4 separate regions of the Homo sapiens genome follow, and regions 1, 3 and 4 are each linked to region 2. The links come from fine-mapping of genetic effects on gene expression. A gene starts in region 2. Each other region holds a variant in brackets. All regions are shown on one strand. Distances are between the middles of the regions. Region 1 has its middle 120 kb from the start of H2AZ1-DT. Region 2 holds the start of DAPP1 (dual adaptor of phosphotyrosine and 3-phosphoinositides 1). Region 3 overlaps DAPP1 (dual adaptor of phosphotyrosine and 3-phosphoinositides 1). Region 4 overlaps DAPP1 (dual adaptor of phosphotyrosine and 3-phosphoinositides 1).

Region 1 (8,110 bases), 250 kb before region 2:
TTTACAAGTACTCTACCACACATGGCCAAAATTAGCTGCCAAAAAGGGTGATAGAGTCTTCAAATGGCAGCCATAAACTTATGAGCAGGAAGAACATATCTCTTGGGAACAAATCAGCAGTTTGTAAAGATTTCCATTGTTCCCCAATTCCAATCAAAATTACCACCAATTTTTTTAGGGAACTTGACAATTTGATTCTAAAATTTATGTTGAAAAGCGTATGGTTTTTCTACATGAGAAGTACCAAGACAATGCTAAAGAGGAACAAGATGGAGACATTTTCCTTTGCAGATATCAAAACCAATGTAACAGATTACAGGCCAGAAACAAACCCATGCATATACAAAAACTCTATTATAAATATGTATTACGTATCTGTGGGAAACTAAGGACTATGTTAGTCCATTTTGTGCTGCTATAGAATACCACCGACTGGGTAATTTATAAGAAACAAATGTATTGGCTCACAGTTTTGGAGACTGGAAAATCCAGGTGTTGGCATCTTGCCAGGGCTTCCTTGCTGCATCATCCATGGCAGAAGGTGGGAGAGTAAGAGAGAGTAAGAGAGAAAGAGGGAGCCTAACTTGCCATTTTATAAGCGAACCAATCCCACCAATGAGGGTGGAGCTCTTCTTGTCTAATACCTCTTCAAAGTCTTACTTCTCAATACTCTTACGATAGCAATTAAATTTCAACATGAGTTTTGGAGGGGGCAAACATTCAAACCATAACAAGGACTAAAGACTTCAATGTAAAAGGCAAAACCAGAACAATTTTAGAAGGCAATACCAGGCATATCTTTATGACCTGGAGGAAAACAAGGATGCTTTATGTAAGACCCAAAGTTACCATAAGGGGAGGAAATAGCCACATTTAATTATACTAAATTTGGGCTTTCTGTTCATCAAAAGACAGAATAAAGAACACGACAAGACAAACCAGCGTGAAAATGAACAGAGATAGGTAAGTAGATGAATGGAAGAGAACAGCAAGACAGAAAGGTCTTATACTGGTCATGAACCATAAACTGCAAGAGAATATTTGCAATACAAATAACCAACAAAAAGTCATTATCTAAAATGTATGAAGAACTATTAAAAAGGGCAAAAGATGACATTTCAGGGAAGAGAAAATACTTATGGTGAATACACACAAAAAAAGATGTCTAGTCTCATTAGTAATTAGGGAAACAAATTGAAACCAAAATCAAATGGTATTTATACTGCCCTGATTTTGCAAATATTAAAATATATGCTGTCAAGTATCTTCATATGAGGATGTTTAGCAACAGAAACACTTTTAGTCTGCTAGTGGGAGTGTATCAGCACAAGCCCCTTTGAAAACAGTTTGACAATATATAATAAAGTATATATAGCATACCCTACTCCTCAGCAATTTCTCTCCTATATGTATGTATTAAAGACAGCCTTGCACAAGTGCATGAAAAGACATACAATACTCAGAAGAAACATTACTCATAAAAGCAATACTTGGGGGAAAAAACAAATATCTAATTCTATATAGATAAATTATATATTTATATTTTGGAATATCATATACAGTAATTAAAAGTGAATGAAACAACAGGAAGGATTCCCCAAATTTTATGTTAACAATAATTTAAAAAGATACAAGCAAGTGATAGAAAAAAATATGCTGCATATTTCTTATTATGATAAAATAAAGCCAAAACTAAACAATATACTGCCTAAGGATTTATTTATAGATGGCAGTGCTGGTTTATTCTATTGACAACCTGACTAAGCTAGGAACTATATATCCCAGAGTTTTCTACCCTGTGCAGATTAAAGTAAAACTTGGTCAAAAGAGGAACTTGAACAAGATATTGGAAGCAGAGTGAAGCAGCATCCAATTTTCTCAAAAGATCTGTGCCATCAAATGTGGTGACAGACATGCAGAAGTGCCAGGAGGTTGCAGCTTATACTTCCTCTGCTCAACTCAGCTCCCAGCCCTTCTTCCTCACTGGGGGCCTGCTGACCAACAGTAGACCTACAGAGGGGGCAGCTACAGTGGCAATCACTTCCCGTAGGATTCTTTTCCATCTCCCTCTTTGTGGCCCCACTCCCGTTGCTAGATGCACTTGGATTCTTAGCTCCTCCTTGAAATTCCGACTTACCCATCAACATGGTGCTTCAGGAGGGCTGGTTAGTGGTTTTTACTCCATTTTTCGCACTTCCCCTTTCAGATCTTCACTGAAAGGTATAGGAGGTATAAGGTGTAAGTCCTATAATAACCCCTATCTTAAATCTTTTATAGTGAGTCTTCTTTCCCGATGAAATTCTGAGTGATGTAATGACAAAGCTACAAAGGAACAACTTAGCGTCTGGTGGGGAGGAAAATGAACAGAATTAAGGCAGGGCACACAGGGGATTTCAGAGCCACTGGAGTGTTCTTTTCCTTAAGATGGGTATGGGTATGGATATGCAAGCATTCATTTTATAATATTATTTAAATTGTACAAAATATAATATATACTCTTTATGTTGTGAAGTTTCCAACTAAAAGTTAAAAACAAACAAAACCATAGCGAGATGTGTTAAGCCAGAGAGTTCAAATCTTCAAGAAAAGTCCAAAAGCCTTAAATGAAAAGGAGAGAAAGAATTGCCCCTGGTCAAAGAGAAAGGCATTGTTAGCTCCCTGAGACTTGGTCTCTGTGCAGCCAGAGGCAGAAAGAAGCAGTCAGATCCAGATTGCTGGGTGTTGAGGCAGCAGACTGCTGGCTTCCCAGTGTTTGGAGTGTGGGTGGAGTGGTGACCAGTGAAAGGTAGGGGATTGAAGGGAACTTTTCTAAGAGGACAGCAATGTGCTAAAAGCAGGAGGGTGCAATTGATTCTACCCAGGATGGCCGGTGCTGTCAGGAAAAGGCAATGTGATCCCAATTGGATGACCATAGCTGGAAATGATGTTTTCAACTACAATACCGTCCTCTAGAGAAACTGAAAGACACAGCAGAGGGTGAGTTTTTCCAAAGGGCCTCTTAGAGGAAACATGGAGAGCTGGTGGAAGCTGGGATTGACCGTGAGCTAGATTGATGGGTGGACCTCAAGTAGGGGGAGCTGGGGAAGCAATTGTGATGGTAACACTAGCAGCCACCATTTACGGGA[T/C]ACTTACTTATCTCCCTGACTTCTAAACATTGGATTTCCTCTTTTCCAACTAAATTCCTCTGATGATCCCATTGTCAGAGGATGCAAACTGTGGGGTTTGTCTTATTATTATGCTGCCAGCGCCCCTTCAATGGTCCCTGATATGGTTGTGTCTGTGTCCCTACCCAAATCTCATAACTTTCAATACTAGCTACAGGCTACTAATTTCTGTTTTAGCCAGACCTTTCCCCTGAACTCCAGACTTCCATATCCAACTGGCTTCTTGATACGTTAGCTTAGGTGAAGGTGATTAACTGGCATCTGGTATGTCCAAATCTGAGGTTGATGTCCTTAACCACATTAACCATCCCCCTACCCTAGCCCCAAACTCACTTCTCTCACCAGCCTGCCCACCTCAGTAAATGACAGTAAATGACAATTACATACTGACTATAGTTTAGACAAAGAAGTTGGTGTCTTTCTTGACTGCTCTCCTTCTCTCACATCCTACATGTGATGCCTCAGCAAATCCCGTTATTCTGCTTCAGTGAGACTTGTCTTCCTTCTGTTTTCTTAATCCACCAGATCTTGCTGCCTCAGGATTTTTGCACCCATTGTTCCTTCAGCCTGGTATTCTGTGTCCTGAGAAAACTGACTAGCTGGCTCACTCATCCCATTTAGTCTTTACTCAAATATCTTAATGAGGCCCCTTTAACTAGCGTAGTTAAAATTATAGACCAGCCCTCCAACATTTTCCAGTCCTTTTTTTTGCCTTATTTTTCCTCTTAGCCCTTATCATCATTTAATATAATATAAATGTTCTTAGTTAACTTATTTTCTGCTATTATACATACACACACACACACACACTCACACACATACATACACACACCCAAATGTACGCTCCAAAAAAGTGGAGATTTTTGTCTGTTTGGTTCATTTTAGTGGTCTCAGAAGTAGAACAGTGCCTGGCACATAAGAGGCCCTCAGTGGGCTGGGCGCGGTGGCTCACGCCTGTAATCTCAACACTTTGGGAGGCCGAGGCGGGCTGATCACCTAAGGTCAGGCGTTCGAGACCAGCCTGGCCAACAGGGTGAAACCCCTTCTCCACTAAAAATACAAAAATTAGCCGCGTGCCATGGTGTGCGCCTGTAATCCCAGCTACTTGAGAGGCTGAGGCAGGAGAATCACTTGAACCCAGAACGCAGAGGTTGCAGTGAGCAGAGATTGCACCACTGCACTCCAGCCTGGGCGACAGAGCAAGACACTGTCTCAAAAAAAAAAAAAAAAAAAAAAAGCTCTCAGTGAATACTTGCTGAATAAATGGGTGAGTGAGTGAGTGAGTGCAATCTGTCAGGCACTGTAAGTGCTTTACATGAAATCTCACAATTTCCATTTAATTATTCCCATTTTACAGATAAGGAAACTGAGGTTTTTAGCTATTTTTATTGGATTTGCCCAAGATCACGTGGTGGTGAGTGGCAGATCTGGGCAGTGAACTCCAGCAGCTTGATTCCAGAAACCTCACTCTTAAATGTAATGCTAGCCTTTCCCAGGATGAAAGTCCGTCACATGGTCCTACAAAGAAGCTGGAAGTCAAGTACCAGAGAAACCAAATGTAAATCCCAAAAGCAGGAACAGAATGATAAACAAGAGATGGAGCCAATTCTCTAGAATTAGATGCAACTGGGTAACAAGGGTGCATGGGAGGGGTAGGAGTGGAGCTGTGACCAGGAACAGACACTCTCAGTTGACCAGCCCACCCTTAGAGGCCAGGGTAGATATACCTCTGTGTGTGTCAGTAAAACAGCTAAAATGAACCGGATTCCAAAATTATGAGAGATGGGAAGTGGATGCAGACTGTGGGTTTTGTCTCATTATTGTGCTGCCAGTGCCCCTTCAATGGTCCCTGATATGGTTGGTTCTGTGTCCCTACCCAAATCTCATCTTGTAGCTCCCATAATTCCCGCATCTGTGGGAAGGACCTGGTGGTAGATGATTGAACCCTGGGGGCGGGTATTTCCCATGCTGTTCTTGTGATAGTGAATGGGTCTCACGAGATCTGCTGGTTTTAAAAAAGGGAGTTTCTCTGCACAAGCTCTCTCTTTGCTTGCCGCCATCCAAGTAAGATGGGACTTGCTCCTCCTTGCCTTCCACCATCTTCGTGAGGCTTCCCCAGCCACGTGGAAATTGTGAGTTCTCCATTAAACCTCTTTCCTTTGTAAATTGCCCAGTCTCCAATATGTGTTTATCAGCAGCATGAAAACGGACTAATACAATCCCTTATTAAGCTGGTGGCCAGGGGAGAATCTGATACAGAAAAACGATTCTGTTGACATACAAGTGATCAAAACCAGATGTGGAATGAGATATAAGGGATTAAGATTATATTTCTTCTTTTGATTTGTTTTAAAATAGCTTTAATTTAGGATATAAAATTTCAAAAGCAATTAATATTTATTACACATACATTTCTTCTGCTGCTTCAAACTATGTGACTTTGGGTGAATTGATTCATTTCTCCATGCTTGCATCACTCTTCTCCTCTATGGAGGAAGTATGAAGTATTTTATGATTGGAGACGATAATAGTAAAAATCTTATAGGGTTGTGAATATTAAATGAGACAGACACATAAAGCACTTAGAACAGTGCCTGGCATATAGTAAACATGCAATAAATATTTATCATTACAGATATAAAATATAAGGCTATTTTGTTTATTATTACATATGGACAGACCCTCCGAGCACCATGAAATAAGTTGAATCATGAATGAGAAAAAAAAGTTTGATGAAGATCAATTTATGGGACAGTAGTTAAAGCAGCATAATAAAAATGCAGAATAAGATATGTAGCTAAAATTTCAATAGGGAACCTTTATTCTGAAAGAATGTCAAAGGTCCTTTGGAAAATCAGAACCAGCAAACAAGGTCATGTTGTGTCCAGCATGCATTAGAGAAAGAGACTGAACATAATCCTAGAATGATGAAATATCATTTGGACATACTAAACCCCATCCAATCCTGCACAACAGTGTCTGTTACCAGTATAAGAGTGTCATGTTAACAGCCAAGTGGCAGGAAATTAAACACTTGAATTTTCCACAAAACCAAAAGCAGAAAATAAATGTACATTAAAATAAATTCTGTGGTTAGTTTACTTTAGCATGATGTTTTGACCAAAAATTGTCTAGAGGGGTCCCCTATTATGGTTATCAGTGAATGATTTAGGTATAGGACTCCTGGCACTTTGGGAGGCCGAGGCGGAAGAATCATTTGAGCCCAGGAGTTTGAGACCAACCTGGGCAACATAGTGAAACCTGTCTCTACCAAATATAAAAAACTTAGCCAGACATGATGATGCATGCCTGTAGTCCCAGCTACTTGGAAAGCTGAGATGGGAAGATTGCTTGGGCCCGGGAGGTCTAGGCTGCAGTGAGCCATGATCGCACCACTGCACTCCAGCCTGGCTGACAGAGTGAGACCTTGTCAAAAAAATAAAAAACAGAAATAAAGAAAGAGAGAAAAAGAAAGAGAGGGAGGGAGAGAGAGAGAGAGAGAGACAGAGACAGAGAGAAGGGAAGGAGGGAGGCAAGGAGAGAGGCAAGGAGGGAGGGAAGGAGGGAGGGAAGGAGTGAAGGAAAGAAAGAAAGAAAATGGGACTCTCTCTTTGGTCTAGGGAAACATTTTTTGCTTCCAAGTTGATTATCAGTCCAAGTGCTGTCAAAGACTGGAGATGTACTTTTTTCAGTAGAAAAACAGTACAACTTTACTACTAGTACCTGGCCCAGGATAAATGAAGGACATCTCATGATCCCTAGGTTTTCTTTCCAAACAAATAAGAGAAAGTTATATTGAATGAGGTATAAGAAAAATTAAAGAAAATGCAACTTCTGGAAGATTCCTTGAGCTGTAAGGAAATGATTTAGAAGGAAGAAAAAACTGAAGTACATACACTGGGCATCCAACCTAACACTTTATTCACTCACTCATTGGGTCCACCAGCCCTCCAGTCCACAGCTGAGTAAACTTAAACAAGGCATCTTGTCACTGTAAGACTCGGGGCTTTTTTTTTTTTAATTTGTAAAATAAGAATAATAATGGCCTCTACTCATAGGATAGTTTGAAATATGAAATAATGCATGTAAAGTGTTTAGAACATGGCATGGCATATAAATTAGGACTCCAAAGGATTAGCCATTAGCATTGTTGTTATTATTTTTCAGACTTATTATTTTCCACTATAATAGAATCTAGGTCCTAATGGTTTAGGGTAGACAGCATGAACAAAACTTACCCTTGTGAAACCTGCCTGCTGTCAGCCTCCTAGTCACAGAGGCTACGTCAAACTCCAAACAAGGACACTATTGCCCGCTATCTCCCCGAGCCCCATGTGGACCCTGCTTATCCAGAGATGCTGACCTGAGATGGTCAAAACCAGGCGACACATGAGCACATTCTGTCATAAGCACCCTGCCTGATCTTGCTTGTGCCTTTTATCTCGCCAATAAGAATGCTGGAACTTAGTAGAAGTCTAGAAGATCAGAAGAGAGGACATCCAAGAAAGGAAATCCAAATCTGGGTTCCAGCGGAAAGTATCTGTAAGTATTCCAAATACAGAGAGACAACCAAGGAAGTCTCACTGAAGCTATGATAAACTGTTACTGCCCAAGCATCCACTGAAAACCCACTGAGGAAAGAAATAAGGAGATAATTGAGGAGAGTCCTTTAGAAAAATGTTTTGTGAAATCTCACAATTATAAACTGTATGCTACTGCATTGTGGAACATGCCAGTAAAGCAAAATGCTGCTAAATATGTGTGTATTATGGTGTGCCTGTGTTAACTGAGGACTGATAAAATCTGAAACCGTGATCCATGATAAAAATAAAAAACGTGGTTTTGCAAATGGATTTTTATCTAGAAAATAAATTTGCCACAGGATGGCAGTAAAAGGTAAGTGATAAGGATAGGACATGTATTTTTATTAACCCTTAAAAGTGCTT
Region 2 (8,110 bases):
ACTGGCACTTTCTTATACAACTTTCGATTTGAGAAAGTATTTAAAAAAGAGAACGTTTATTATGTTTCTCACTTGGAGTTACAACTGACTAGATCATTTGAATATTTAATTTTAAAGTATGCTAAAACACTTTCATTTTGTTATTTCTTTTGTGTTTATACATATATATAGCTATATGTAGAAATAGTATAGTAACCTTTGTTAAAGCCAAAGAATTGCTGGAATTTTCAGTAATTTAACTAGCTATTCTTTACCAGTTTGTTACTTAGGTGATATCTCCAGTATTTGTTACTTGTTTTATTTTGCCATATTTTCATTTTGCAAGCAGCAAACAGCCTGACCCATCTCCTCGTTCATGGTCCACCTCCTTCCTCTCCCCTGATTCTCCACACCCTCACTTCTTGCCCTCCCCACACCTCTCTTCCCCCTAAGCCCATACCCTCCCCTGAGAAGTGTAAGCGAAGCTGAGCAACAATTTAAGATGGTTTTATTTCTCCTTTGCTTCTGGACACATTAATGTATTTTAGATGAAAGAAAATTAATGATTTTAGGCTGACACTCTATAAATGAGACATGGAAAAGCACTGTGTTGCTTGATTTAGGTATTTTAGAAAATAATAAACCTGTACTCTGAGCAAGTTGTATATGTCCTGGAAAGGCAAGTGATGGATTTGCTGCAGTTCAGGGCTCAATTTACAGGATTTACATATTCCAGAGCCTGAAAAAAACAGAGGCCCAAGAACAAAGACTTCTGCTATTTCTGTAATTTAACCACTAACTTATCTGTTTATGTCTATCAAAAACATAAACGTAAGGATTTATCTAACTACTCAAATAACCTCTTAAAAATAATTGAAAAATTAAGTCATTAAAACCAGCTACCTTTTATCTATCCATTACATTAAATCATTTTGTTTTTAAGGAGGTCTTTGGAAACTAAATTAATCAGAAGGTTTGGTAGAGATTCTATCTCGCCAGTGGTTAAAGGTTCAAAGAAAAAGTCATTATAATGTTCGAGTTATGTTCAGTATTCTGGCAGAGGCAACAAGTCATTGTCAAGAGTTCTCAAATTGTTATCTATAAAAAATGTATCAGTGAGGTGCTGCAGGAGCAAGTACTGGCACAAGTTGATTATTAAATATTCAATTCGATGATGTTAAATTGTTGGCAGCTTGAAATTGTCTATAGTGGGAGTATTTATACCAGGGAATTAGGCAAATTCTTGAAATCAGGGCTTTCTCCACACCCCAACTCTTCCCAGCTGTTTTTCCAGCACACTGTTGAGTATGCTTAAATAAGCCATACATCTGAGGGTTCTTTTTGGGAGAACAGAAATGTCCTAAAACTGATTTATGGTGATGGTTGTATCACTCTGTAAAGTTAGTCAAAAGTATTGAATTGTACACTTGAAACGGGTATATTTTATGATATGTAAAATAACCTCAATAAAGTTGCTAATCGAAATGCCCCTAAACCAACAAACAAAATATCAACATTTATTAGTAATTTTAAGATTCAAGTACACACCCAACAGACTTAAAATGAAAAACAAGACCACATTTACCTAATGCATTTGGTAGATACATATTCTATGCAGTGATCATCAACCTAGGGTCTCACTTTGGAATTACTTGGAGAGTTTGACAAGAAAACACCCATCCCCAGAGATACTGAAATCATTTGTCAAGTCTGTGGTTTGGGTGTCAAGATGTTCCAGAGCACAGCCAAGGTCAAGAACCAGGACTGTAGAGCAGTTTTCCCAGATAACTGCAGGTTGCCCATTGCTATAGAAATCATCCTCATGTTTATTAATTGTTCACGCCTTCTGAAATAGGGAAATCTGGCCATGAATGTACCCTTTTTTTTTTGCAGGGAAGTGGTGTGACTCAGTTTTGTATTCAATGTCTATTCTTTGCACATGGAGGAAAGACACAGTCCTATTCCACCCGTGGGTTTCACCTGTAGTTGCTTCTTGCTGTTGACATCATGGTGGGGCACAGAGACAGCATCTAATTCATCTTTGTCATCTAAGTGTGTTCCCACAGTACTCAACCATAGACTCTGGGTTCTAGGATTGTTTGTTTAACTAAAGGACCAGAATTGAATATATTCCTCTATCTCCTCCTTTGGGGTTTTCTATTACAGTGGGCTGGGAATACAGTTAACAGAACATGTAAAGCATTGTAACTTAATAGTTCAATAAGACACTGAGGGCCACAGTTCAGCTTTAGCTTTTGGACTTGGTGACACCTGTGCTGGATGCTCACAGAAGGGCCTTTTACCTCTTCTGTTTGGGGATTCAATCTAGAGGGATAGAGAGATTCTAGAGCTCTGGCTTCCTAATAAGGGGAGTTTTCTTTAATGAAAATTCCAGGTGTTTTATCTGATTTGCCAAATGAAAGTAGAGTTCAATTCCGAGACCTCAGTTTTATAATCTAAAGACAGGAATTATTAATAAACTTTTACAGTAATACAACATAAAAAGATACAATCTCTGCAGCCTTAACACAGAGAGATTTCAACTCTATTTTGGTTTTTCTTTGGTTTCGGACATAGCCTGTGGTAGGTTGGATGCCCAGCTTTGCTATGTAATTGATGTGTGACTAGCAAGCAAGTTATTCAAACCTGTTTGGTACTTGTTTTCATCCTTTGTAAGATGAAGATGACAACAGCTCCTATGTCATTGGATTGCTATGAAGAGTTAGAGCTATTTGTCCAGGCAGAAGGTAAAGGTTTTGCCTCTCCTCATGCACAGGTGTCAAAGCCACCTTCATTGGGATATTCCCAGTGCATTAGGCAGTTTCTCTGGGAAATCCCCAATTCCTCTCTTGTGTAATACTTGTTTCTTATTAAATACCCGGATGAGTTGTCATCTGGGTCCCTTCTTAAAGACAGAGCTCCAATGACTCCACCTACCTATGCTTACCTGTTTGAAGCAGAAATTTTATCCTCTTCCTGGATTGTTGGTACTGAAAGGCTCAAAGTTGGCTCTCTGGACATACATACGATATCAAATCTCACAAATGCAGTATCAGGAGAAAGAAATATACAAGCGAGACTGTTGCAGGAACTTCCTCATTCTCTGTCTTTTGAAAAAGTCCCTCTCCCTTACAGTAGGGTAAGCTTTCTGTTTATCTTACCAGAAACACAGTCCTTTTACTGTCCCTGGGTCAGTGCTAGAAACTCTTGAACAGCGCATTTATTCATAAACCAGAGCAACATCAAGGAAGCCAGGCAACATCACCTCTATATCCCAATTCTGTCCCTCTTCTCAAAGAATGTCCAACATTTGATTTTTTTCCCTATTTTCTCAACCAACTTGTTTTCACATCTAGAAAAATAATGCCTGCTTTTCCAATGGAATTAGCCCCAGACAAGAAGATACTTAACAGATACAAATGAATAAAGTGGAAAAAAATAAATGGTTGAGGTGGCAGAGGGCAACAAGGCACTGAAGATAGTCATTAATCAAAGCATGCAGGTGGGAGTGCGGAGTCAATGTCCACCCACTAGGTACTTTGAAAGGAGATCTGCTGCCTTACCCCAAGTCCTGGAGCAGCTCAGCCTCTCCATCGGATCTGCTCCACAGATCTGAGGGATCCTGGGTGCTCATCTTCCCTTCTAGAAGTTCTGCTCTGCCCATTCGCGCCCTTCACAGAGGTAGAGAGAGAGACACAACTGGGCTGCTCCTGACACCTTCTCGCTCTGTGAGACAGCAGCCTGCTATGGCTCTGAGTCTCCAAGGCAAGGAAGTGAAACTTGGTTACTTACTCCTCCCACCAACACCACCACCCTGGCCTGGAGGCACTGGCAGGAGTGTTCTGTCAGTCAGGAAGTATGCAAACTTAGGTAGCTACCTCTGAGGACACCCACACTACATCACGCAACAGGCGGTTGCTATCAAAGGAAATGAAGAGGCAACCACCCCACCTGGGATTGGACAACAGTGCAAACTGCTTGTGTGAGGCCAAACCCTAGCTTCTCCCTAATGCTATCAGCCTCTGGTTTGTAGTGGAGGATGCGTGCACTCTTTTACCCCATCTTCTTTCTGTCTTACACACCAACACAGGGAACACTGAGGAAGCTTCTCTATCAGGAACACCTTTAGAGTGGATAGAAAAAGCAGAAGCAAACCACAAATTCGACCCTGAAGTTTGATGTTTTAGCACTTTTGCAATATTTCTGCTTGTTTACCCAGACCTTCTAATATATCCTCAATGCTCCGAATAGGGATGATTCAGAGACAATTATTGTTTCCTCCACAGAAAAAGAATTAGGAGAGGAGAAGGTAGGAAAAAGTTACAAGGGGCCATTCTGGTGCCCACCTAATGGGGCATATTAGAACTCCTGGAGTCTTTTTTTTTTTTTTTTTTTGAGACAGTCTCGCTCTGTCACTCAGTCTGGAGTGTAATGGCATGACCTGAGATCACTGCAACCTCCACCTCCCAGGGTTCAAGTGATTCTTCTGCCTCAGCCTCCCAAGTAGCTGGTATTACAGGCACCCGTCATCATGCTCTGCTAATTTTTGTGTTTTTATAGAGACAGGGTTTCACCCTCAGGTGATACACTCACCTCGGCCTCCCAAAGTGCTGGGCTTATAGGCATGAGCCACTGCACCTGGCCTGAACTCCTAGAGTCTTTGAGTGCCACTTCCTTCATGGGCTTACTCACACCTGCATGGCTTTGTGCCCAGATTCATATGTAGAGCAGGATTCTATCTGCCTGGAATGCTAAAGGTAAATTGCAGTGACTGAATCCTTGGGAAGTGGAACAAAGTGCAGTATCAAATGAGTCAAGGACATATGTTGCTTCCTGCCTTTTCTATGTACCTACAGGTCTCTCTCTCCCTCTCCCTTTCTCTCTCTCTCTTCCTATCTCTACTCCCTGACTCATTCAGCACTCACCACAGTGCTCTGTAACTTGTTCTCACAGTGTGGCCTGAGGACTAAACAGCACAGCAGAACTGTTCCTAAAGGACTAGATGATTGCAAAAGGCTGCTGTGCAATGGTTCTATCCTTCATCTTCCTCCCTATTACCACTGTTCACCCGGGATCGGTGAGACCCGGGTAACACTGGTTGCCAGTGGGAAGTTCCTGAGTGTCTGGAGGCAGTCTGCTGAAGACTAAGCTCTGATAATACATATATAACTGACTAAATGAGCACTTAAATTCTTTTGGCTACAGTTTGCTCACAGAGAAGGACAGGGCCCACTTGAACAGAGAGGCCAGTGCAGGCCAGGGAGATACTGAATATGCATACAGCAGTGACAGGGGAACAGCCTGGGCACTAGAGTTCCTGTTCCCTCTCTAGAGCCCTTTATTTGGTGTTTTAGTATCTATTTCATTCCCATTTTTAGCAAATTCTGGTTGTTCTTTTTCTTAACTTTTTTGGAAGTACAAGTAGCAGAATTTTCTAAGATCGTCCTGCTTTTCTGGCTGAATCTTCCTGCCTTTTGCCCTTCCTCATGTTGCTGTCCTGTCTGTTGCCCTCTCCTTTGATGTCATTGTCCCACTTTGTCATTTACTCAATTTTTCACAGTATCCCTACCACCCCGCCCACTCCACTAACTACACACTTAGTTTTGCAGTGGTAACAGCTGCAGGAGGCTTGCTAGATAGTTTCAACAAAATGCTGGAGCCCATCCCTCCCGGGACATCTATTGCTGTGTAACTGAAAGGGGATTTAGAATCTTGTTCTGGGCCGGGCGTGGTGGCTCATGCCTATAACCCCAGCACTTTGGGAGGCCGAGGCGGGTGGATCACCAGGTCAGGAGATCGAGACCATCCTGGCTAATACAGTGAAACCCTGTCTCTACTAAAAATTCAAAAAATTAGCCGGGCATGGTGGTGGACGCCTGTAATCCCAGCCACTCAGGAAGCTGAGACAGGAGAATGGCGTGAACCCGGAAGGCAGAGCTTGCAGTGAGCTGAGATCATGCCACTACATTCCAGCCTGGGCAGCAGAGTGAGACTTCGTCTCAAAAAAAACAAAAAACAAAAAACAAAAAACCTTGTTTTGGAACCAAGGCCAGCATCATGTCTGTTCTTATCCTTCAGTGCCTGTGGCATGCTAGTTGTATATTTAACAGGTATATTGAGGTACAATTTGTATATCATAATGTTCATTTTCCTTAGGTGTACAATAATTTTGAGTAAATTTGCAGAGTCGTGCAACCATCATTGCAATACAATTTTAGAATGGTTTTTATCACCCCAGAAGATCCTTTGTATCTGTAACAGTCTAAATACCACTTCTGTTTTTAGCTCTACCTGAAATTATATAGAATATTTGCTTACTTGTGGCAAATTCTCTTGATGGATAGATAGTAGATAGATGATAGATAAATAGATAGATAGATAGATAGATAGATAGATACATACATACATACATACATACATACACACATACATCTCCCAACCCACATGCTCTTCTGCAATGTGACCTTGCTGCTCCCTGTCAAGAGGCAGCACCTAACTCCCCTCCTTTGAATCTGGCCTGGCCTCTGTGATTCACTTGTGACCAATAAAATGTGGTGGAAGTGACACTGGATCACTTCTGAGGCTAGGTCAGAAGAAGCCTTGCAGTTTCTATTGTGGTCTCTTGGAAGGCTCACTCTCCAAATGTTACTTTCAGGGGTTCCCCTTAGGAACATAATTGTTATGCCTAGAAGCCCAAGCCACGTGGAATGCTTCATGTGTGTGCTCCAGTCAACAGTCCCAGATAATCCCAGCTTGAATCATTCTAGTCCAGGTGCCAGACTTGATTGAAGAAGCCCCCAGATGATTCCAGCCTCCAGCCATTCAAATCACTCTCTCCTAGTGGTTTGCATATTGCCAGCTGAGGCCCCAGACATCAAAGAGGAGAGACAAACCATGCCCTGTTTGAATTTTGGATCTAAAGAATACATGCACTTAATAAGATGTTTGCTATTTGATGCCATGAAGCTTGGGATGGTTTGTTAGGCAGTGATATGGTTTGGCTCCTTGTCCCCACCCAAATCTCATCTTGTAGCTCCCATAATTCCCACATGTTGTGGGAAGGACCCAGTGTGAAATAACTGAATCATGGGGTGGGTCTTTCCCCTGCTGTTCTCATGATAGTGAATAGGTCTCATGAGATCTGATGGTTTTAAAAATGGGAGTTTCCCTGAACAAGCGCTCTCTTTGCCTGCTGCCATCCACATAAGATGACTTGCTCCTCCATGCCTTCTGCCATGATTGTGAGGCCTCCCCAGCCATATGGAACTGTAATTCCAATAAACCTCTTTCTTTTGTAAATTGCCCAGTCTTGGGTATGTCTTTATCAGCAGCATGAAAATGGACTAATACAGCCAGCGATAGATAACTGAAACACTTGCCTATCATCTGGGTCAATGCCTAGAATGTGAGCTCCCAGAGGCAGGGACTTCCAGGGTCTTGATCACCTTATATCTTTGATGGTTACTTTTACGTGTCAACTCGGCCAGACCACGGGTTGCCCAGATAGTTGGTCAGATGTTATTCGGGGTGTTTCTATAAGAGTGTTTTTGAGTGAATTAACATTTAAATGGTAGGCTCTGAGTAAAGCAGATTGCTCTCTATAACGTGGGTGGACCTCATCCAACCAGTTGAAAATTTGAACAGAACCAAAAGACCAGCCTCCCCCGAGCAACATAATTTTCCAGTAGACTGCATTTGGTCTTCATTTGCAGCATCAACTCTTCCTGGTACTATAGTAGACAGCCTTTGGACTTGAACTAGTTCTCCAGCCTGTGAGCCCACCCTGCAGATCTTGGACTTACCAGCCTACATAATTATGTGAGGAAATTCCTTATTTTATACAACGCACACACACACACACACACACACACACACACACACACACACACCCTCTCTCTCTCTCACACACACACACTCTCACACTCCACATATATACATACTATTGGTTTTGTTTCTCTGGAGAACCTTCACTGATATAGTATCCATAGCCCCTAAAATGGTGGTTCTCAATTGGGTCCTCATTTTTGAGGTGGTTTTCATTGTTAGTTGTCACAACCTGGGGAGCCTACTGGCATTTAGTGTGCAGTGATGCTGAATATCCTAGTGTGCAGTACAGCCCCCACAATAAAGA
Region 3 (8,110 bases), 21 kb before region 2:
ATCTGCCAGTAGGCAGAATATGTATCTTTTCCCTAACTTGGAGAAGGCCCAGGAAGGAGCACAGGGAATGATCAAAGAAGTTGAAAATAGAGTCTAGGAGAAGAATTTAAAAGAAGGGAGCTGTCTTTGGTTGGAAGAAAAAGAGAAAGTAGAAAAATGACAACTCTAGTGGCTTTGAAGACTACAAAGAGTTCTTACTCATAGTTATCCATGTATTCATTTATTTATTCACCCAAAATGCCCTGCAGTGGGCCAGGACCTGGCGGATATGAAATACAAAAATTAGAGGTACACAAAACAAAACCCTGGCTTTAAAAATCTCCTCTACATGGCCAGTGACCAATAACTGAACAAAATCAAGTGTGGAATTGGATGCAAGCAGGAAAGGAGACTGAAGTGTAGGGATTTGAGAAACTGAAATGCTTGCCAAGGCCAAGGTAGCAGTGGAAATAAATACACCTCCACTGGCCATTTGTTCATGGGAACAACTGCTTGTTAAATGGTGAAGTAATTTTCAGGGTTGATTGGGAGAATTTATACCAGGAGAAAGAAGGAAAAAAAGGTTATAACTTCATTTCGTAGTTTGGGTTATTCTTTCTTGGGCTTGGTGTGGTCAGTATAAAGCAGAGCAACTATTTTCTAGTTTCCGCTGTGCACTTCATGTATACTAGACACTGTGTGAGTCACATCAGGGACTACCCACACCACATAAATAGCAGAAAAGACAGAAGCCAATGATGCCATCTCTTCCCATCACACTGAAGTTAACAGAAAGCCCACTGGCAAGTTTGCCAAGAAAACACGTATGTACAAACTCATGGTAACTGGTTGTGTTATTAAGTCTTGAGTTCCTCTTGTGCCGCAGGTTCTTGGAATTTCCTAGTCTTTGATTAACTAAGATTTATCATTATTTAGGACAAAAGTGTTGTGATTCTATATCACAAATACAGGGATGATATTTTACTTCATTAAAATAATATAAATAAACAAGATGTTCAATCTTAGATAATTCAAGTGCCAAGATAGACTGTTTTTTGTGTTTTTTTTCTTTACACATGAATTTTTTTCTGGTTTAATTCTCTAACCATTCAAACAGGAAAATTCAAACTTTTCCAGCCATAGTTAAGTCTAGCTTAAAATCTTATTTAAAAAACCGTGACAATAGAAACAGAATTTTATAACTTAGGAGAGTGCTTCCTAGTTAATATTTTCAATATTCAGTGATCTCTGTGAACATTTAAGTGGGAATTTTAGTTTTTAAAATGCTCAAAATTTACTTCTGTGGGTCTCACTCATATGCAAACTGCCTATATCTGAAATTATGAGTAATCAAAAAGTCATTTTTACCTTTGTTCTTTTTGTGTGTATTGTATATGTTATTTTAAAATGGTGAGCCCATTTTAAAGAAATTGTGTGCTTTTAATCAATCCATTAAGTAACACATTCTGAGAAAATATCTACTTTATACAAAATACATTGTTTTCTCTTCAAGATAATGCTGAAATATAAATGACAACAATGACATTCTTAAATTGAAATCTGCCTTGTCTCTCCTCCATCCCGAAACATTATTTCATAAGTCAAGTGTCTGCTCATAGCTTACCTGTCTCGCTTCCAATCAAAGGCTGATTTGCAAAATGCTTGACAAAATCCTTCAAAGATGAGAATTCATTAAAGCCAAATTTAAATGAATATCCAGTATATTCAACATGAAAGTGTTTAACAGAATCTTTGGCCCTAAAAGGGAAAAAGAAGTATTTAATATTATTTAACAAATAAATATCTTGTTGAAGGGAAATATGATCTCAGATGTTAGCATCACTATTAACCCTTTATAAGAACTGAGAATTAGGCAATCATTGAAACCACTGACAGTTTTAAATAGCATCACTAGTTTCTTTTGGCAGAGTTTGCTCTTTTCAACTTTTATTAATTAATTAATTCATTTATTTATTTACTATTTTGAGACAGAGTCTTGCTCTGTCCCCCAGGCTGGAGTGCAGTGGCATGATCTAGGCTCACTGCAACCTCCGCCTCCTGGATTCAAGTGATTCTCTGGCCTCAGCCTCCTGAGTATCTGGGATTATAGGTGTCTGCCACGATGCCTGGCTAATTTTTGTATATTTAGTAAAGACTGGGTTTTGCCATGTTGGCCAGGCTTGTCTTGAACTCCTGACCTCAGGTGATCCTCCTGCCTCGGCTTCCCAAAGTGTTGAGATTACAGGCGTTAGCCACCACGCCCAGCCTCAACTTTTCACTCTAATGGAAGACAAGAGACTGTTCTCCCTATCTACTCCTAGACTTACCAAAAGAGTCCTTGAACATTATGCTGCTAAGGGGCATGAGTTTAAGAAGGGCAGAGAATAGGAATGATAGAAATGACATATGACACCCTCACCACACTCTCCTCTGCCTTGGGCTTTTCTCCCTTGCTTGTTTGGGAGTCAATCAGAATTCAGCTCTGTCGCTTGATTAGTTACGTGAGCCTAGCCCTTTTCCTCCCGTGCATGTTCCACTGCCTACTGAATAAAATATCAAATTTCCTACATTGTCATTTTCCACTTCATTTTTGAAATGAGGCAGAGTATTAAACAATATATATATATCTATATATATATCTATAGATATCTAATCTATATATATCTATAGATATCTATATATATCTATATATATATATCTGCCTCTCCACTTTATTTGATCCCATTCTATCTTTCTAGCCTCACTTCCTGCTATTACTCTCAGTGCAGCCCATGCTACCATGTTAGCATGCTTCAGAATCATCTGATGGGCTTGTGAGAACCCAGCTTGCTGCCACCTCCACCTCCACCCCTGCAGATTGAGATTCGGTAGATCCAAGGTGGGGCCTGAGACTGTGCATTCCTAGCATGTTCTTAGGTGACACACCTGGTCTGGGGACCACACCTTTAGAACAGCTGCCCTAGTCCAACTGGATCTACTGCTCTTCAAGGAGTTTCCACTTCTGTCCCTTAGTTCATACTGTTCCTTTTTCCTGAAACGGTCTTTCTCTTTGTCTCTGCTGGTAGAAATCCCAGCCACTCATTAAGGTGCAGTTCAAGTACCACCTCCTCTGTCAAGTATTACATGATAATTCCAGCTTAAGTTAACTGCTTTTTCCCTTCTGAACCACCTAAACACTTATCTTGCTTTCTTTTATGTTATTTGTCAACCTCTACTTTGTAGTATGTTACTTGTATGTGGTCTTTTTGGCTCTGTGAGGCTGTAATTCCCCAAAATAAGGTATTTCAATCTTCTACAGCAGGGATCCCCTATCCTGGGGCTGCAGACTGGGTACCTGTTAGGAACCAGGCCGCACAGCAGGAGGTGAGCAGTGGGTGAGCAAGCATTACTGCCTGAGCTCTGCCTCCTGTCAGATCAGTGATGGCATTAGAGTCTCAGGAGCCTGAACCCTATTGGGAACTGCACATGTGAAGGATCTAGGTGGCACACTCCTCATGAGAATCTAATACCTGATGATCTGAGGTGGAACAGTTTCATCCTGAACCCGCATTTTCCACAAAACCAGCCCCTGGTGCCAAAAAGGTTGGGGACCACTGTTCTACAACACGTACCAAAGTGGCTGGTGCAGAATAAATGCTTTCAAATATTCATCATTAAAAGAATGAACAAATAAGTGAATATTTGTTCATAAAACAAAAATAGTCATTCTCCTGAATTAGTCTGTGGTTTTTGTCACCTCTGCTGGTCATTTTTTTAATAAGCATTCTCTAGTGCTTGCAATGAAAATCAATAATTTATTCTTTATTTTTTATGTATATGAAATATGTATGTCATTGATTTATAAAAAGCTTATGATCTAATTGCTCAGATGAGACATACATAGGTGAAAAGTTAATTAACTTTTCATTTTTGGAAGATTCATGCCAGGGGTCCCCATCCATCCCCCTGCCAGCCACGTAGCAAGAAAACGAGTGATGGGTGAGCTAGCGAAGCTCATTTTTATTTATAGTTGCTCCCCATTGTTTGCATTCTCAATGAGCTCCACCTCCTATCAGATCAGTAGAGGCAATAGATTCTCATAGGAGTGCAAACCCTATTGTGAACTGCACATGCAAGGGATCTAGGCTGTGTGCCTCTGATGTTAATCTAATGCCTGACGAACTGTCACTGTCTCCCATCACCCCCAGATGGGACCATCTAGT[A/T]GCAGGAAAACAAGTTCAGGGCTCCCACTGATTCTGAATGATGGTGAGTTGTATAATTATTTCATTATACATTACAGTGTAATAATAACAAAAATAAAACACACAATAAATGTAATGCACTTGAATCATCCCAAAACCATCTGCCGCTGCTCCGGTCTGTGGCAAAATTGTCCCTGGTGCCAAAAAGGTTGAGGACCTCTGATGTGTGCAATAAAGCATCTACAACTTAACCATTAGATGAACTTTTAACATTTGCTGTTGAGCAGAGAAAGCACAATTCTTGTTGCCACTCAAACAGAATTCCATCTTGGATTAATAATTTTTTCATCTATGTTATTCAGAAAATTTATAAATAAAATATAACAGGGTGACATGAGAAATGTTAATGAATATGCTTGTTTTTCCTCTGTGACCCCTACTTACCCCATCACCCTCTACCTGTTTCGCACACCCACCCACTTCAAGTAGGCCTGTAGATTTTCACTGTTCCAGGAATGGGAGTTGTGGCAGGCAGCATTCTAAGATGATCCCAAATCCCAGCCCCTGGAGTACACACACTTTATCCCAATTATTCAATCAAAAACTAGTCTACATGCTACTGGGAAGGGATTTAGCAGGTCATAAAGTCCCAAGTCAGTTGATGTTAAGATATGGACATTATCTGAGTGGGCCTGAACTAATCACATGAGCCCTGTAAAACAGAGTTTTCTCTGGCTGCTCACAGAAGAAAAAGTCAGGGAGATGTGTTCTGGCTGGCATGCAAGAAAGCAAACACCCATGTGGTAAACAGCCATGGGTGCCATGTGGCAAAGAACTGTGGGTGGCGTCTAGGAGTTGAGAATGGCCCCTGGCTGACAGCTAAAAGGAAAAGGAGGACCTCAGTTCTACGGCAGCAAGGGAATGGATGAAAAAGGATGAAGAGGAAAGGAGAAAATGAAGGAAGAAGACACTAAATACCAGATCAGAGCCACAAGCTTCTCCAACACCTTTATTTCAGCCTGGTAGGATCCTGGACAGAGAATCCAGCCAGAAACTGTGAGATAATCCAGTTGCGTTGCTTTAAGTCCCTAAGTTTTTGATAATTTGTTATGTAGCATAGAAAATGAATATAGAAGCAAGGCCCAGAGCCCAAAGAGACAATGTGAATGCTGCTACTGAGTTAGTGACCAGTAGTGACCGTGTAGACTGGGAAAGAAGTGAGAGAGCCTCTGAGGCCAGATTAGCTTGAGGAACTGCACTATGAAGGGAAGAGTGACTCTCCAGGGTATATGGAGGTGCCATCAGAACAGTAACACAATAACAGTTTGAGCTTAATGGGTGGGTGGCTGAGGGAAATTTCATGGAGTCCTTACATCCCCTGCCTAATCCATGGAGAAGCGCCTAAAAACCCAAGAATACTTGCTACATGTCAGTGGAAGCCAGAGTGTCAGATGCGACTGAGAACCAGCCGCCTCCCCTGACTACCAGAAGCTTGGTCAGCCTCTCTGATCTGGGGCACCAGACAGAAAGAAGGGGGTGTGAGGTGGGGAGGACCTGAAAGATCTGGACAATGACTGCATTTGGCTGTATGAACCTGGTGGGGACTGGATTAACTTTCTTACCATTTGGGAGAAATAGAGACTCAATATGAAAAGCTAGCCCACTATAGGAAAAATTTTAAACATGTATATTGCCTCCTTGAGGTTGTGACTATGAAAGCCGTACAGTCATAAATCATTCTGCATTTACAGAGAAATCAAAGAATAGTGAAAAGGACACTGAGCCAGGTGTCAGGAATTTGGATTCTGGCACTGTTTCTATTGTTGATTTTTGAGGTACCAGACATTCCACCGCTTTGGGTTTCAGATTCTTCAACAGTCCCATGAAAGGTTTCCATCAAATAATTCCTCATGTCTCCTCCAGCTCTAACAATTTTTTTCCTGCTAATGAATGGAGCAGGAATGTTGTTTTACACCCTCATCATTTAGAGTTTGGAATCCTTTAACCTGGTGGTCCAACAGGAATTGGGAAGTTTTGCTGTCTGGCAATTTGAGTGATGATAAAGTCAGTAAGTGACAGAGGAGCCCATGCTGAAGTCGTAGAGCCCTGAAGCACCTTACCTCACAGAGAGAGAGTACAGCCCGGTGGTCTCATTGCTGTCCCTCAGAAGGTAGCTGCCGTCACATCCATTTGAGAGGAGAAGAGCTTCAGCAGCATGGCGTGTGAGGTTGCCGTGATACCACCTAGAAAGGAGGGAACAGCGCTTTCACTCAGGCCAAACCATGGCATGACTCCCCCTGCACTGGCTTTTCCTTGCAAAGATTACCTAGCAACATTCTTCAAGATAAGTAGCCCAGAGACCCAGCTCTCAGCCCCAACATTAGGACAAGGAAATCCCTGGGTGGGGCTGAAAGGAGAGCACAGAGTTGACTAATAGTAGCGTGACATGGGTTGAATTGTGTCCTGAAAGTTCTTATGTTGAAGTGCTAACCTCTCAGTACCTCAAAATGTGACCTTGTTTGGAGACAGGGTCTTTACCAAGTTAAAATGAGGTCATGGCTGGGTGTGGTGACTCACACCTGTAATCCCAGCACTTTGGGAGGCCAAGGCAGGCGGATCACTTGAGGTCAGGGGTTCGAGACCGGCCCGGCCAACATGGTGACACCCCGTCTCCATTAAAAACACAAAAATTAGCCTGGCATGGTGGCAGGCACCTATAATCCCAGCTACTCGGGAGGCTGAGGCAGGAGAATCACTTGAACCTGGGGGACGGAGGTTGCAGTGAGCCAAGATCATGCCATTGCACTCCAGCCTGGGTAACAGAGTGCAATTCCATCTCAAAAAAAAAAAAAATGAGGTCATTAGGGTGGGCCCTAATTCAATATGACTGGTGTCCTCTTGTAAAAAGGGAAAATCAGGAGATAGATTTGCCTACAGGGAGAACAGCGCATGAACATGACAGTCACTTCCAAGCCACAGGAAGAGGCCTGGAACAGATTCTCCCTCACGGCCCTCGGAAGGAACCAATCCTGTTGACACCTTGATTTCCGACTTTGAGCCTTCAGAACTGTGAGGCAATCGATTTCTTATAGTCAGCTGCCCAGGCTGTGGTTCTTTGTTATAGCAGCCCTAGCAAACTAATACAGTGTTGCTTTGTAATCAGAATTGGTTTTTAAAGTCCAAGTCAAAATACCATAAGAATAGGCTTTGACCAATTTCCTTCTTTTTTTGGTCTCTCACACTCTTTTTCAAGTGTGGTACCTTTTCACGGCGAAACCTCTGTGCTATAATACTAAAGGCTATTGTCATGAGTGAAACGAAGCTGGATGGAAGGAATTATAGTATGAAGTAAATGCCACCAAGTACTGTTTCAGCCTGACAAGTATCTGAAGAGCTAGGGAATGCTCAAGGAGATTCAAAATGATATTTGTGTTTTAGAAAAGGTAATATATATCTATGGTAAAAAAAAAAAAATTCAAATTGTCCAAAAGGAGACATAGCAAAACATGTTTTCTTCACCCTGGGCCCTCAGGCTCCCTGTTCCTTTCCTAGAGGACACCTTGGTAACCATTTTCCTGTGCTTCCTCTTAAGAGATAGTCTACACACTTAGAGGCATTGGATGTGTACCTCCACTCCTGATTCTACAAACATACGAGCATTATTTATTATTTTTATTTTCTAGGCATATTGCTCTGCACCATCTTTCTTTTCTCCAATAACAGGTCATTCACATTCTTTTAAACGATGTCATAGAGGCATGAAATGTGATGATTAGGATTGTGGCCCCGGGGGTTGCTTTGCCTGGGTCCCAATCCAGGTGGTACCTCTTACTAGCTGTATGGCCTTGGACATGTTACTTAACCAATCTGAGCTTTGGTTCCTCATGTTTAAAATAGTATGACTAATAGGCATACGGCATAGGCCAGTTGTGAGTCCTGCACACATTAAC
Region 4 (8,110 bases), 40 kb before region 2:
ACGTAAAAATAATAGCACACACTTAGCTAACACCTACGAAATATAAGGGTGGAGAATTGTGTGAACAGAAATTTGCATAAGACAAGTAGCTTAACATCAAGAAATTTATCATTTCATAAATTCCACAAGAAATTCAATTCGTGGTAGAATATTTTGTTCAAATGTGATGTCATCATATGTCTTAGTAAGAAACAAAATTAACAAAAATTGGGAAGTGATTTGGTTGACACCAAGGTTCTTTCTATGGTAATTTCCAGAATATTTTTTTCCAAGGTGAATTTTCCCAACCAAATAAAAAGAGGAACAACCATCTCTACCACAATAAAAAGAGTTAAAGCAGGAAATAAGCAAACACTTCTTTTAAAATCTTATGATATAAAAGTAAGGATAAACTAACCAAATGTTCACTTAAATAATATTAATCAATATTGGTGAATTTGATATCTCATAATTGGTGTGATTTATTTTAACATTAAATAAATTGAATTGACTCAGTTGAATTCAGGTGTTATAGGAATGGCAAAAAGTAATTATTTTGGGCTGTTGCAGGTTAAAATCTGTAGAGGCAAAATAACTAGGAGTAAATTGTTGTATAAAAGATCCTGATAGAATTATTTACTAAAATCAAGCTAGGGAATAATCCCATCTTACCTCCACCCAAACAATGTACTATAAGTGTAGTATTCTTCTAAGGTTTTGATAGGTAAGCCAAAGGCTGCATGGGAAAGCAATGAGACTATTAATTTTATTCAGGGTCTCCAGATGTAAGAAAGTAAATAATTATAGAGCACATTTATCTTTAAAAATCTATGAACTGTAACAGAAAAGCTGTTTATAAGAGCCCCCATTGGGGTACCATCTAAATGTTCAAAAACAAAGGACTGTCCTTCCTGCCATCCTACTACCTACTTGCCTGCCAGCCTTAAATGAAGTCAGTAGCCAACACAGTTCAGGTGAAGCAAGGCAGGCATTGATGTGTGTGTGGAGGGCTTTCAAGCACCTTAGTACAGGGTGGTGGAGCCCAAGTAGGGCACAGGGAGCCTCTGTGTGGACACTGGCAGTGACAGTGGCAGCAGCAGCTGTGTGCGAGGCATTGAAGCCTGGCAGGGTGTGGAGGGCTTCTGCCTGAAGGGGTGGAGGTGGCAGCTACTGCACAGTTTCAGAGCCAAGTTGGGCTAGGTGGACATCTGTAGTGAGGGTGGGAGCAGCAGTGGCCTGGAACTGAGCATTGAAGCATGACTGGGTGGTTGGAGTGTCGGGGTAAGGGTTGAGTAGTAGAAACAGCAATGGGAGATTGCTTATATTCAATTGATCACCACATAAGTGTACTGAGGATGATAAGATCCATATTTTCTCACTGTGGGAGAAGGGAAAACACTAGAATGAACTTTGTGGTATTGGAAGCATTGTTGTGAACTCATGGATCGATGAATGAATCGACAGATAAATACAGATGTAAAAGTATATATGTGTACATATGTATATACATACATATTTTCCCAGCTCTGCTCACTGAGTGGGCTGGGAGAGTGACATCCTGATAACAATAAGCACATAGTACCTAGATGTCGATTTCTAGAGTACTATTCTGTGGAAAAAGAGCAGAGTTTCTTGGAGAAATAGCTGGTTCTAGAGCTGGGTACAAAGAAAGAACAAGATAAGTCTGGATCATCTTGCTATTCAGAAAGTAAGAAAGTTCTTAAAAGAATTTTGAGGCCAGGCCAGGCACGGAGGCTCACAACTATAATCCCAGCACTTTGGGAGGCTGAAGCATGAGCATTGCTTGCACCCAGGAGTTCGATACCAGCCTGGTTAAAATGGTGAAACCTTGACTCTACAAAAAAAAATAAAAAAATGAAAATACAAATATTAGCCAGGAGTGGTGGTACACACCTGTAGTCCCTGCTACTCAGGAGGCTGAGGAGGGAGAGTCACCTGAACCCAGGAGGTCGAGGCTTCATGAGCCGTGATCACACCACTGCACTCCAGCTTGGGAGACAGAGTGACGGAGTGACACACTGTCTCCAAAAAAAAAAAATTTTTTTTGAGGTCATATGAACACAGACACCACTTGAAAGGGCTCTTTCCCCGACTGGCCAAATCAGGGAAATTTTGAAGGATCAAAATAAATAATGATAGTCATGATTATAACCATTTGATATAAAAATGATTGAAAATTTTGAAGAATAAAAAGCTTTTCCTTACAGTAGAATGACAACCAATGAATGTAAAAAGGAATAAGAAAATCAGAGAGTCATCGTTTGGTAACAATCATAGTAATGATTAAAACAGCCAAGACACATCAGTAAATGCTAAAATTGGCAAGTAAAAATTTAATAAGTAACAGAATATTCTTATAGTCTCAAATAACCTCACCCCAAACATTTTTTAATAACAAAGGGAATATGGTGACTTTAGAGTGAAGAAACCTGGCAGACACCACTTAAGTAATCAAACACACCATTATGAGACAGATTGCAATTGTGTTCCATCTGAGAAGACACAGTGAGAAGCACAAACAAAGCATCACTTTTGTGGTATTTGTAGCCAACATGAAAAAACCTGTATCTAATCATGATTCAATATCATATAAACCAAAGTTGGGAAACTATTTACAAAATAACTGGTCTTTAATTTCAGATGTGTCAAAGTCACGAAATTAAGGAAAAACTGAGGAAGTGTTCCAAAGTGAAGAATCTTCCAGAGACAGGACAGATAAGTGCAACTTGTGCTTGAGGACTGGATCTTTTACTCTGACGGAACTTACTGAGAAAACTAGTGAAGCTTGAATGAGATCTGTGGATGAAACAGTGGCACAGCCTCAATGTTAATTTTCTAGTTTGGAAGGCTCTATCTGGTCACGCAGGCAAATGCCCTTATTTTTGGAAATACACACTGAAATATTCAGGGTGATGGGGCATCATGTAGGCAATTTACTATCAAACGACTTGGGGAAAACCAAGTTCTGTGTACTATTCTAGCAATTATTCTGTAACTTTGACATTATTTCAAATAAAAAAGCATGTTAAAACATAATAGTGGATTAACTGAATAAATTGATATACTCAAATAATGGAATATTATGGAATTTGTTTAATGGTGTTCCAGAAAACTAAGTAATTACATGAAAAAAATTTTAAATATATAGTTAATTAAACAAGAATATTACAACTCTACAATGAAGAGCTCATTATTTTATGTGTGTGTGTGTGTGTGTGTGTGTGTGTGTGTGTATATACATACATATACTTTTTTTTTTCAAGTAAAAGACTGAAAGGATAAGCAACAAAATGTTAAACCTGAGAAGAGTTTCAAAAACAAAATACTGGAAAAGGGCAACGTGCAAGGAAAGTATCCAAGAAGAGGAACTATAAAATGTGTCAAAGATTACGGAATAAAGACAGAAAGATGTTGCCAAAGCTAAGGAAACAGAATTTTTAGAAGGAGGGAGTTGTTAAAAACGTCAAATACCACAAAAGGGAAGCTAAGGAAACTAACATTTTAGATAGGACCTATTATGTCAGGAACTTGAACTATATTAATCTCAATCTCTACCAAGACAACTAATTGGTATTTCTCATTTAACATGTCCAAAATAGAGCTCTTCTTTCTCATCCCCTCAACCCACCCCTCCTGCAGAGTTAGCCTTCTCAGTAAATAGCAGGGCTTCTCTGCCATGACTCTGCTACTCTTTCTTTCGTGTATCACATTCAATCCATCTGCAAGAATTTTTTTAAACAAGCTCAGAAGGTAAAGAATTCTCATGTTATGTACAAAAGGTACTACTGAGATTTTGGGCAAGATAATTCTCTACCACTCTTTGAAGAATAGTTAGCCCCTGATCACTGTTGGGAAATAATCTCCACGGGTCTCTTGTCAAGGTTCCAAATGTCTTATGAGCAAGGCATTAACAGTTCTTTGCTGCAGACTGATATTTAAAGTATGCTTATACAAGCAGCCTTGGAATAAAGAAATATTTCCCTTCAGAACAAAAGACATGTCTACTGATCATTAGAAAAGATTTGGGTTCCCAAGGCTCAGGGTTCCTCTCCTGTAGGGCAACCCATTGTGGATATCACCTGGCCCTTTCAATATTGCCCTTTGGGAACTTCGGCTCAGCACAGGGAATTAGCATAAATACTGATATCCTGGCTGTTGCTCTTCCTGTGAATAGCAAACTATTTTTCAACGCTTACCCAGAAGTCTTGTGTCATCCATCAGCATACATGAAACTGCAGCAGGCTAACTTGTTAGCTTGCAAGCAGAGTAAAGTCAGACTCTTCATGGCTCTTGACACTCACGCATGATAGTAGTGCCGCAAAGCAATGCACCAACAGAAACACTCATATTTCTAAATGCTCAGCTGGGAGGTGCTGCTCTTTGAAAACTCCATTGCCTTATGTGATCTGACCCCTCATTACCTCAATAATCTCACCTTCTACAACTTTTCCTCTAGCTCACTTCATCCCGTAATTCTGACCTTCCTAGCCTTTGAAGCACCTCAATTTTGTTTCCACTCCAGGGCCTTTGTACTGTTTCCTCTGCCTGCAGCACTCTTTCCACATCTTGACATGAGTCACTCCTTCCCTTCAGTGAAATCTCTTACTAATGGTT[C/T]CTCCTCACAGAGGCCTCCCTTGCTTCCCTCTTCTCCCCTTATCCTACTTTTTCTTTTCATGATGTATTACTGTCTGGTATCAGATTACTGCATTGATTATTGTCTGTGATCTTCACTAGAATGTGAGCTCAGTGAGGGGAGGAGGACCTTTGTCAAAATTACTGCCAAACTCCCAGTGCTTAAAACAGTTCTGAGTGTATTGGAAGCACTTTAAAAAAAAAAAGTTTGTTTAATAAATGAATTAATTAAATTTAATCCTATCATGGGAACTCAATGCTATGTTGTTTATAAGACATAAATAGCAATTTCCCCAAATGCAGTTACTAAAAGATGTTAAACAGTTATACACAGTCATCTGCATTTCTGGGCAGTGGGGCATCTTTCACTTTCGCTTCAAACAAGAAGTTCTTTTAATTCTCTTCCTCCACTGCTAGACCTTGAGCAAGAACTACACCCCAAAAAGAAAATGCAGAAGTTTGAAAACCCTCAGGGCTCTCAGGCTGGAGATGGAGGTGCAGCATCATGTAGCCATTTGGGGTAGCAAATGAAGGCTTAGAACTTGTGTTCAATAAGGGACAAGAGCATTCTGATCAGACCAGAACTCTTTCCCCAGCAGCTATACTGGTCCAGTCACCAATGATTCCCCAATGAGAAGTAATGAGAAACATTTCAGATCCTCTAGGAAACCTTTACATTTTTTTTGTCCATAGTGATGTACAATCAACTTCATAAGCTTGTCATTATATAGTGTGAGTTCAAGTCATTGTCAACCAATCACTCACCACTATTTTAAAAACTCCATTTTAAAAGAGGTGAATCCATCTGATAGCTGGAGTGAGAAAAGAAGGTAAGTAACAAGGTTTCCAGAATGTGCTTTAAAGAGGTTTATTTCTGCATAAGGATACTATATCTTCTGCTCACACCAATCTCACAAATTAGGTATTATCTGCATTTTATTGCCGATAAAGAACACGCTTAATAGGACATGGTTTGTTTGACCTTGAGTGGAGATCTTTAGGGGAAGTGTAGCAGAGGAGAATGTGAAGTTAAACTAACAGGGCAAATGAAAGAGATGTTGAAGTGACTGGTGATCTATATTAAGGGTAAGGGTGGGTAAAGAGGAAATTATGAAGGGACTGGACAACTGGAAAACAAGAATTGGTTGCAGAGTAGATCTTGATTTGTTCTTTGGTCTTTTCTGCCTTTGGACTATTTATTGTCTTGCACTCCTAAATTTCTCAAGTTCTGAGTTCTTGATGCCTTCTCCCCCACTTCTAACAAAGCCAAAATAACTTTCTCAGTCAATTTTCAGGATTTTTATTTCTGAGGAGATGTAGCACTGCAATGAATATGTAAGATGTGCCATGAGCCAGGCTAGGCTGTAAAGCTGCAAGGACAAGCAATGATTCATGTACTTAGATGTTTCTGGCTGGTGGGGAGGGCAGAGAGATGTGAAGGTAATTAGCCCACAGCATGGTAATTTTAGAATAAAGGCAAACAGAGGGTGCTCTGGAGCACAGAAGAGGAGCATTGTAAAAGAAGCTAGTGGGGGTGAAGAAAGGCTTCCTGGAAGATAATGATCCGTGATACCAGTCTTGAGGGATGAGTAGATAGCAATGGTGTTGGCAGCATTTCAGATGTAGGGAGAGGAGAAAGAGCACAATGTTGAGAGAGACAGGTTTCACAGTGTGAGTGTGGGAGTAGCATGAGATGAAGACAGAGAGGCAAGCAGGGTCCAGGTGGGCCATGAACACAAAAGGCATCACCAAAGGATGTAAAGCAGAGGTCATGTGGCAAGCCTTCTTTTTAAGAAAGATCTCTCTGGTCAAGGGTAGAGAAAAGTACTGCAGATATAGAAAGTTACACTTATTTTAATATAATTTGTAGCTGAATATCTTCAAGTGATTATTTTTCAAGTGTCATGATTACTATCCAGAATTAGTTCTTGATATTTATTTGGGTATTATCTTCTTTATCATCTGCCCAAATAGAGGTTTCTTATACCAGGAGTATTCAGCAAACAAGGAAGAGACAACAAATAGAAGGGCCTTCAGAATAATGAAGGGAAAAGGGTGTTGGAGAGGAACCTCTGCAGAGTCACAGTTCACAGAACAAACATAAATGGACTCTTGGACAAACAATGAGTGCTCCAATTGCACTGAAATTGAACAATGGCTCACGTTGCAAAGAAGCACAAGTGTTTTCTGTCTGTAAACTTCAGTCAGTAAAGGAAAAAAAGCTAGAAAAAATAATACCCTGAGTTTTTATAGTAAAGGTGGAGAATATTTGTCTTCCATAGATAGTTGAAATATTTAAAAAAATATATTTTCTTAATATAAGAAAATTGTAGGAGAAAACAGTTTAGAAAACTATGTGAATGCAAACTTCTCTTTTCCATTCTACTTTGAAGTTGTTTGGTTAACTAAGGACAGAGATTTAAGTTCCATTTTCGAAGTATTTAAAATCCTATTACTATTGCATTGCTTTCATTTGTTCGTTTTGAGACAAGGTCTCACTCTGTAACCCAGACTGGAGTGCAGTGGCACAATCACAGCTCACTGCAGCCTCAACCTCCTTGACTCAAGTAATCCTTCCACCTTAGCCTCCTGAGTAGCTGGGACTACAGGTGCATGCCACCATGCCCAGCTAATATTTTTTAAAGTTTGTTGTAGAGATGTTTATGTTGCCCAGGCTGGTCTCCAACTCCTGGGCTCAAGCAATTCTCTTACCTTGGCCTCCCAAAATGTTGGGATTACAGGCATGAACCACCATGTCTGGCTGCATTGTAATTTTTATGATCTACCCAGGACCAGATGAACTGAGTCATAGGCTTCAAATCTCACATTCCTTTCCAAGTTTTATATTCCAAGCTAGAATTTTTATGTGAACAAATACACTCTTATTAACTTTTATTGAACTTGATTGATTTTAGACAGGGAGAGAGCTTGTGGTCACGTTGAAGGTCACTTACAGAAGGTGCTGTGGGCACAAGGTCATCTTCTGTTCTTCCTGTCTGCATTGCTGTGTGAACCCGGACAGATTCATAAATGGAGGGTTCTTCCACTTTTCTTGGGTAGGGATGTTTTAGAACCATCAGAGTGCCTGAATGAAGATGAAAAATATATAATCGAACAGTGTTCCCAGAAGGAAGGTCCAAATGCTAACTGGATAACTGTGGCTGGATTGGAAAGTCTTTTGTTTTTTTCATGTATTCCCTCGCTCATTATCTCAACAGTTATCAAATACCAATTAGGTATAAGGCACTTAAGCTGGACACTGAGATATAAAGCATGATGGAGATGTTCCTTGGCCTCCTGGTGCTCAGAACTGGTAACAGATATGGTCGTTTAAATGAACAGGGTGATGAGACCAATGGCAGCCGTGTGAGCAAAGCATGATAATCATCCCCAGACTGCTTGAAGAACCTTTCCATGAAAGGATTCAGGACAGCTTTCATAAAGGAGGTGACATTTGATTTAGATCTTAAGTAGTAAC

Evidence for each region. PIP is the estimated chance that this variant, and not a neighbour inherited with it, causes the effect.
Region 1: its variant is fine-mapped to the expression of DAPP1 in lung (GTEx, PIP 0.93).
Region 3: its variant is fine-mapped to the expression of DAPP1 in whole blood (TOPMed, PIP above 0.99).
Region 4: its variant is fine-mapped to the expression of DAPP1 in whole blood (TOPMed, PIP 0.94).

The regions. Positions count from the first base shown.
Region 1 is chr4:100,063,474-100,071,583 of GRCh38, reverse strand. No RefSeq gene overlaps it. Among named protein-coding and RNA genes, the nearest start is that of H2AZ1-DT, 120 kb to the right of the region's middle. The variant T/C (reference allele first, on the strand shown) is at 3,126.
Region 2 is chr4:99,812,447-99,820,556 of GRCh38, reverse strand. DAPP1 (dual adaptor of phosphotyrosine and 3-phosphoinositides 1) reads right to left here and starts at 3,730. Exons shown (of 9, transcript NM_014395.3): 1 at 3,543-3,730. The coding sequence starts at 3,643.
Region 3 is chr4:99,833,916-99,842,025 of GRCh38, reverse strand. It overlaps DAPP1 (dual adaptor of phosphotyrosine and 3-phosphoinositides 1), which reads right to left. Exons shown (of 9, transcript NM_014395.3): 2 at 6,281-6,403; 3 at 1,604-1,737. Among named protein-coding and RNA genes, the nearest start is that of DAPP1, 21 kb to the right of the region's middle. The variant A/T (reference allele first, on the strand shown) is at 4,182.
Region 4 is chr4:99,852,825-99,860,934 of GRCh38, reverse strand. DAPP1 (dual adaptor of phosphotyrosine and 3-phosphoinositides 1) reads right to left here. Exons shown (of 9, transcript NM_014395.3): 4 at 7,587-7,717. Among named protein-coding and RNA genes, the nearest start is that of LAMTOR3, 38 kb to the left of the region's middle. The variant C/T (reference allele first, on the strand shown) is at 4,615.